2 linked regions of the Homo sapiens genome follow. Each later gene encodes a partner of the first gene's protein in a complex. Each region holds a gene or a part of one and is shown on either strand. Other genes may lie near its edges.

What was found.
Region 2: the proteins of CRH (region 1) and CRHR1 are in contact, whole or in part, in a cryo-EM structure (PDB 6P9X), measured with the Homo sapiens proteins. Residues at the interface, in NP_000747.1 of Homo sapiens: Glu156, Pro157, Pro158, Ile159, Ser160, Leu161, Asp162, Leu163, Thr164, Phe165, His166, Leu167, Leu168, Arg169, Glu170, Leu172, Met174, Arg176; in NP_004373.2 of Homo sapiens: Lys113, Tyr116, His117, Ala119, Val120, Asn123, Trp169, Val172, Gln173, Met176, Ser177, Pro178, His181, Thr192, Tyr195, Asn196, His199, Phe203, Phe260, Gly261, Lys262, Tyr267, Tyr272, Gln273, Met276, Ile277, Leu280, Tyr327, Phe330, Phe331.

Annotation. Positions count from the first base shown.
Region 1 is NC_000008.11:66,177,157-66,180,756, reverse strand, and holds the start of CRH (corticoliberin preproprotein), read left to right. Parts: upstream 1-2,292; 5' UTR 2,293-2,464; intron 2,465-3,265; 5' UTR 3,266-3,279; coding exon 3,280-3,600. UniProt on the Homo sapiens protein: Hormone regulating the release of corticotropin from pituitary gland. Induces NLRP6 in intestinal epithelial cells, hence may influence gut microbiota profile.
Region 2 is NC_000017.11:45,815,107-45,819,220, forward strand, and holds part of CRHR1 (corticotropin-releasing factor receptor 1 isoform 2 precursor), read left to right. Parts: intron 1-1,356; coding exon 1,357-1,476; intron 1,477-4,114. Other genes in the region: LINC02210-CRHR1 (CRHR1-IT1-CRHR1 protein), read left to right, coding at 1,453-1,476.

The sequences.
Region 1 (3,600 bases):
ATGTGAGTCCATTAAACTGCTTTCCTTTATAAATTACCCAGTCTCAGGTATGTCTTTATTAGCAGTGTGAGAACAGACAAATACAGATAAATTGTGGCTGTGCATAGCTTCTCTTCCTCTGGGGTTCAGGAACATTTTTTTCCTTACTCCCTAGTTGGAGCCACTTTGGCTCTATTAATGACTTACCCCAAGAAAACCTCACAGCAAGGACTCAACAGTGATGAGGGAGCTATACTAAAACAATATCCCCCAGATAGCCCAATGGGAGAGAGATTTGTATGGGCATGGGTTTAGTCAGAGCCCAAAACTTGTTGTGTCTTCTCTGGAAGAACCTCCCAGACCTCCCCAGCTAAACTCATAACCACATCCCTTTCCTAGTTTATCTTCTGTGTCCATTTACTGCACTGAAACTTCCTATTCCAAGTCAACGTTTCACCTCCAGATTGACATCCAAGCTGAAATCTGCTAACAGGGTCAGAAAACAGTTCATAAAGGAAAGTAAGCAAAAATGTTGAACCCATTCCAGCTTAATAAAAAAAAAAAAAGCCCACAATAACAAAATCTAAGGTTCTGTGTGCTTTCCTACCAATATAAAACACAGCTTTCTCCCAGAAACTCAACCATTTTCCATAATCATGATCTTCTATTAACAACTCACATCTTTCCAAGTAGGCACATTCTCTCTGTTCTCTTATGTCAAAAGTACATAACATGGTGCAGTGATCCAACTATGGGCTGGCTTCTCTGCAAACTGTCAACATTTCTCTCCCTGCCTTCCCTTTGTTCCTAAGAGCAGTTGTGGATTGGTATAGACCCAAAATGGAAGTTGAAATATGCATTGCATCATTTGTCACATTAGCTACAAAGGAAGCAGCAGAAGTAATCAGAAATGAGGAGCAGGAAATTTCCGATAAACAACTCTGATGGTTATCTGGAAGCTGAATTGAATCACAGGCACAAGAACTTGGAATTGCATTTTGAATTGCAGAATTAGAGGTAACTGCCTCCCACCTATATGATAGTGTCAATTAATCAAAAATTGAATATAGTTTTACAGGCTTAGCATTCCATTCCATTCTGCGACATGTCAGAGAGCATTTATTTATTTAACAGGCTGACATGAAGCACATTTGGATTTGGAAAAAGAAATAATTAAAAAGAACCACCCTGGGTGGCCCAGATGTGGATACTATTATGGATGTTGATAGTATTTGGAGGTGAAATGAACGAGTTTTTTTTTACAGACTCAATATTGACCAATGAAAACATGTAACTAATGAATTTAGCCCTGTAGTCAAGCAGTTTAAGCCTTTTTCAACATAGATTAGGAAGTTAGAATGGATGCCTCTCATTGAGTTTGCATTCAGTAGAATAAGTAAAGCTTGTTTAACTCATGCATCTCTCACTGGCCGCCTCTCTCTTTAATTTGGGAATAGAAAAGGGAGTCCACAATTAATTTTAGATTGTGAGAAGAGAGACAAAAAAAGGAGCAGAGAGTTTCTGAGATAACCTAAAATCTTTGCCGCACCCCTTACTAACCCCGGTTTGTGCCCCTTCACTATGGGAGTAGCTCTTGTCATCATCTAAAAAACTTGAACTGCATTTTGAGAGATTTATTGGCCTTGCTTCTGCAGGCTCATAACTCCTTTATGTGCTTGCTCTTGGGAGGAAAAAGCAGATAGACGTTTAAAAGCTGGATGTTCCTGCACACCCCTCTCCTGATGCTTCATTCTTTTCCAGGCAGAAAGATGGTGGGACTCTGTCTCTAGCAAAGGGATATTTCCAGATACTGAGGTGTTGTCAGAGACACCTGGTCAGGGAGGTTAGGAGAAGGGGCATCCAGGTCCACCCCCTCCAACTGGCTGCTGCTTTCCTGGCAGGGCTGCACTGGGACACCTCACTTCCTTCCCACTTCCCCTTCCTCCTCCCATTCGCTGTCTCTTTGCACACCCCTAATATGGCCTTTCATAGTAAGAGGTCAATATGTTTTCACACTTGGGAAATCTCATTCAAGAATTTTTGTCAATGGACAAGTCATAAGAAGCCCTTCCATTTTAGGGCTCGTTGACGTCACCAAGAGGCGATAAATATCTGTTGATATAATTGGATGTGAGATTCAGTGTTGAGATAGCAAAATTCTGCCCCTCGTTCCTTGGCAGGGCCCTATGATTTATGCAGGAGCAGAGGCAGCACGCAATCGAGCTGTCAAGAGAGCGTCAGCTTATTAGGCAAATGCTGCGTGGTTTTTGAAGAGGGTCGACACTATAAAATCCCACTCCAGGCTCTGGAGTGGAGAAACTCAGAGACCAAGTCCATTGAGAGACTGAGGGGAAAGAGAGGAGAGAAAGAAAAAGAGAGTGGGAACAGTAAAGAGAAAGGAAGACAACCTCCAGAGAAAGCCCCCGGAGACGTCTCTCTGCAGAGAGGCGGCAGCACCCGGCTCACCTGCGAAGCGCCTGGGAAGGTAGGGAGCGCCTGGACGGAACACGCCACCAACTTTGCGTTGCCTGAGCTGCCGCGATGTGCGCCGCGGAGCCGGCTGCCCCTGCCTGTGTACGTGTGTATGCATGTGTGTGCGTGCGTGTGTGTGTGTGTATGCATGTGTGTATGCGTATGTGTGTGTGTGTATGCGCGCGTGCGTGCGTGTGTGTGTGCGCGCGTGTTCGCGGACTATTCCTTAAGATTACAATAGTAGCTGGGATGTGGCAAAAGCAAACTTAGACGGCTGCTCTTCGTTACCCGTGCTGCCAGTTGCTCCTTGCTGGCTGTGTAAAGGAGCTCCCCCACCCCCTTCTATCCTAACCCCCGAGATAAGGCAGCAAGGGCAGAAGTGGAGAGGGAGGACCATGAGGCAGTAGTTCTCAATTTGGAAGAAAATGCTGAAATATCCGGAAGGGAGGTAGTCAGCGCGGGTGGGATCTTAAATCTGTGGCTCTTCTCTAGGATCGGGAAAATTAGTTTTGAGGATCGTTAGGAAGAGGACGCAGGGACCGTCCTTTCAGAGTCTAGAAAGAAGGGTCACTCCTGGCCGGTGAGCGCATGAGCTTAGGTGCGGAGCCCTGCAGGCGCCCCCTTTCCCCGCTCCCCAGGCGCTTCAGCACCGCGGACAGCGCCCATCCGAATCACTGAGGCCAAAGCCCAGCACGTCTAAGGCAGTCCCGTAGGAAGACCCCGTGTGCACCTCCCAGCTGAGCGAACTCTAACCAACTCTTTCTTTCTCTCTTCCCCTCTCTCATTCCGCCCTCCGCCCACCTCTGTGCCGCAGCGAGTGCCCCTAACATGCGGCTGCCGCTGCTTGTGTCCGCGGGAGTCCTGCTGGTGGCTCTCCTGCCCTGCCCGCCATGCAGGGCGCTCCTGAGCCGCGGGCCGGTCCCGGGAGCTCGGCAGGCGCCGCAGCACCCTCAGCCCTTGGATTTCTTCCAGCCGCCGCCGCAGTCCGAGCAGCCCCAGCAGCCGCAGGCTCGGCCGGTCCTGCTCCGCATGGGAGAGGAGTACTTCCTCCGCCTGGGGAACCTCAACAAGAGCCCGGCCGCTCCCCTTTCGCCCGCCTCCTCGCTCCTCGCCGGAGGCAGCGGCAGCCGCCCTTCGCCGGAACAGGCG
Region 2 (4,114 bases), on another chromosome or scaffold:
TGGCAGCTGCTAAGGCCTCGGCCCAGGCCTGAAGAGGCTGCCCCCACACGCGCTGGTTCATGGTTCCTGGCCCTCCGTGGCTTGTCTGTCCACTCTTGTGCCAATTCTAGGTTATTAACCTGGGGACACTGGGGCTCAAAAGGACTGGTGTGCCAGCCTCACTCAGAGGGAGGCACTAAAAGGCAGAGAAAGAAGGGGCAGCCTCAGGGGGGTGCCAGGACTGTGCCAGCCCCCACCCTTTGGAGGCCATATCCACCCTCCCCTCCTGAAGTGTCACTGGGCCTCAACTCTGCCCCAACATCCTCTCTCTCTCGCGTGCTCTCTCTCTCTCCTCCAAAAAGCAAATATTTGGAAGGGGACTTTGACATCTTCTTTCTAGTTCAGATGTTTATATCTCTTTGAGTCACAGACCCCTTTGAGAATCTAATGAAAGCCGTGGGCCCATTTCCCCATTAAAATGCATGTATACACCAATATTTTCATTACATTCAGGGTCTCTGTGAACTGTTGAAGTTTCCAGTGGGCTGAGATTAAGAATTTCTGATCTGGTTCAACCACTTGATTTTATTATAGATGAAGACAAGACACTAAGGCCCAGAGAGGGCAAGTGACTTGCCTATGATCTCACAGCAAATTAGTGGCACAGCCCATTCTGAAGCAGTGGGCCCAGACTCCCAGTTCAGTGTGTCCTTTCCACTCCCCCAGATGGTGTCTCCCTCCCTTTCCTCTCCATAGCTCACTTCTCCATCAGTCCTGTCCTAGGGCCCTGCACAGAACAAAGTACACGTGACGTATGGTCAGTAAGTGTGGTTAACAGGCCAGCCGGAAGAAGGAACAGGCCAGCCGGAAGGAGGGCCAACTTCATTTAGCTGATTCTTCCCTGCAGGGCCAGGGTAGATGTGGTTTGATTGCAGAGACGTGAGGGGCTAGGTCAATGATTGGATGGGTCTGTTCCAGGGTGTTCCTGTGATGTCTCAGAGCTCCAGGCTGTCACCATGCGAGGGACCAAGAGAAGTGTCCTTAGGCTACAGAGCAGGGGACCAGAAGCATGCCCAGGCTTCCTCTAAATGCCAGGACCTTAGCTTTTAACACCACCTCCAGCCATCTCTCTTCCTCCTCTGCTCTGGAACCCATGCTGGCTCCCTAGTACCATAGCATCAGATTCAGATTTCTTCCCCTTGTGTCTTCTTTGCATAGGATGAGCTCATTTCTGCACTGGTCATTGTTGTCATCCTGTCCCTAGCTGGTGTGAGTGGGAACGAGTGGGGAGGTGGGCAGAACTCTGGAATGTCCTCTGCCTGCCTGGGGCCTTGGCCGGATATCTTGCTGTGCCTTACCAGCCGTCTCTGCCCCCAGGACTGCAGTGCAACGCATCCGTGGACCTCATTGGCACCTGCTGGCCCCGCAGCCCTGCGGGGCAGCTAGTGGTTCGGCCCTGCCCTGCCTTTTTCTATGGTGTCCGCTACAATACCACAAGTAAGGAAGAAGTGGAGGGTGGACCATCTGCTGGGAGGTGGGACAGGATGGGGAGAGCTTGGAGGTGGGGGAAGGAAGAATGACGATGACAATAACAGTAATACCTCTTGTGGGGATCGCCCCTGTTTTCCAAAGGTCAGCGCTGTATTCTCCTGGGTGCCCTGTGCTCATTACTCGTGATTCTCACAATACCCTTGCAAGACACTATCACGCCTCCTATAACTAAGGCCCCTGGGGCTCAGGGAGGTTAGGGAACTTGCCCCATTGGCAGCTGGTAAGGGGTGAAGCTGGAATTTGCATCCACGTCTGTCTGGCACTTTCTTCTGCCATTAAACTTCAGGTTAGTCTGTTTGAGCCTACTGTAATACCATGAAGCAGGGCAGGAATCATCAGAGCCCCAGCTGTGTGGATAAGAACCTTGAGTCGAGAGGTTCTGAGGCCTACCCCGGGCCCTCCAGCCAGGAGGCAGGGGACCCAGAGTTTCAGATGCACAGGCACAGGCTCAACTTGCATCCTGGATTTGTAGGTGGAGTGGGGCAGGACGGGGTTGACCCAGGGTCCGTCGGATACTTGATCCTCATGTAAACACCTGGCTCCCCGGAGGCCCGAAACCCCCAGAGCCGGGCTTTGCAGCTCCCTGCTATTCCGCCTGCCACTCTCAGAATTAATTTGCTCTCCCCTGTCAATGAGTCAGGTCCCTGCTTATCAAGAGAGCAACAGCTGTGGGCCAGGAGCCCTAACCTACCTGAGGGGAGGCTGGGGGCCTGATCCCTGCAATTGGGGCCTCCTGTGTGCACCCTTGGGTCCTTGTGGTCTTGAACTCAGAGTCCCAAGAGGGCACAGGGGTGAGCCCAGACACCATGTAGTTTACTCCAAGACTCACTGTGTGACCTCCCAGCACATTGTTGCCCCTCATCTGGCCCTCAGCCCCTCATCTGAGGATGGAGAGGGCTGGATGGCTTGGCTTCTAAGATGTCTTCCAGCTCAAAACTCCCAGATTCCTTCTCCTGCCCCTCTTTCCTCTACCAGATGGATTTGGGGTGTTAAGGTTGGGGGCTACAGCAGAGGAGTAGGAAGACCCAGCCAGAAAGTGACTCCCCAGGGAGTGACTTGGGAGGCCAGGGCAGGGCAGGAGGCTGGGGCAGCCAGATCTAGCAGCCTCGTGTGTCTGTACCATGTCCTGGCCATGGGAGGGACTCGGGAGAGGGAGAAGACACACTGGGAGGGGCTTGGGGGCCAAGGGGAGGAAGTGCAGAAAGGAAGAAGGGCCTCTTGGCCAGGTCAGTCCAAGGGGTGCACAGTTGGCCAGCCCCCAATATAGTCAGGCCCATTTTGTAATAAGGAAATTGAGGCACAGAGAGGCTAATAACCTATCGGAGGTCGCAGAGCCTGGAGGCAGGGTCACAGCCCAGGGACGATAACTCTCACGATGCTGGGGGCTGAGTCCTTCTGGAGCCCCTAGGAAGGAGGCAGCATCTGCACATCAGAGGAGCTTCCAGGAGGAGGCACCAGTTCCTGTCATGTCCACTTCCAGAGTGATCCTCGTGTCTGGGCCTACCTGCCCCCACTCCCCAGCGCCACCGCCCAGCCTCAGGTTTCAGATCTGAGTTGGTCACTCCTTCACTTGGAACCCACTCTTGTGTGGCCTCCGTGTTCAGGCTGCTGGGTGGGGCCGGCCAGGCTGTCTGTGGTCATGGCCCTGTCACCTTTTGCAGCCAGCCCTGGCCACCCCCCATGAGTTCCCTCTGCTCCCGTTGCAAAGGGTTACTTGACATGCTCCAGATAAACATTTTCAGCCCTCAGTGCCTGGGCACACACTTCACTTGCTGGCCCTGCCTGAAGTGGCAGTCAGGAGTCCTAAGTTCTCATTCCAGCTGCATCTGCAGCTGGTTAAGTAGCCCTTGGCACAGACCTTCTGTGGGCCTCAGTTTCTACACCTGCAGAATGGGTGGGAGGATTGAGTGTGGTGCTCTCTAGGCTCCCCCGCACTTCCCTCTGTGATCCCAGGAAAGGAGCTGGGGTGATGGCCTCTCGACATGGGGTCAGTCTGTGAGGGCAGGGCTGGAAGACCCCTTTCCAGGTGCCTCCAGCGCCAGATGAGGTGGAGCACGCCCGTGCAGTCAGTCACAAGTGGGTACCCAGAGCTGCACCTCATCATTAAGCACTAATTAATCCATTTACTGATGAGTTGCTGCCAGGACTTCTAGGCCTTCTCCCTAATGCCCTCCCTCCTGCTGCATCTGATCTTCAAAGGGATGGGAAGCATTTCCAAAAATATCTATTTTCCCGTGATTCTTTGGGAGGACTGCTCAGCTCAGCAATTAAAGACAAGGAGGTCGCATCCTCCCTGGCAACGGCTCCCTGCTTGTTGGGCCTGCTTTCTTTCGGATCACCTCCTTTCTCCCCATCAAAGCCTGCTCCCTCTGGGTGACCCAGCCTCTGATGGGACTCCTGACTCTCCCCCACATGTCAAGGGGGGCAAGGGTGTTGAGCAAAGGGGCTCCTCCCACAATATCCACCGGTACCCTTTGATGGGGACAAGGGACACGCTCTGAGTCTCACGTAAGGTTATATAAATACAGCTCCAAGACAATAATAATAAAAATAACAGCCAACATCACATCCCAGGTACAGTTCC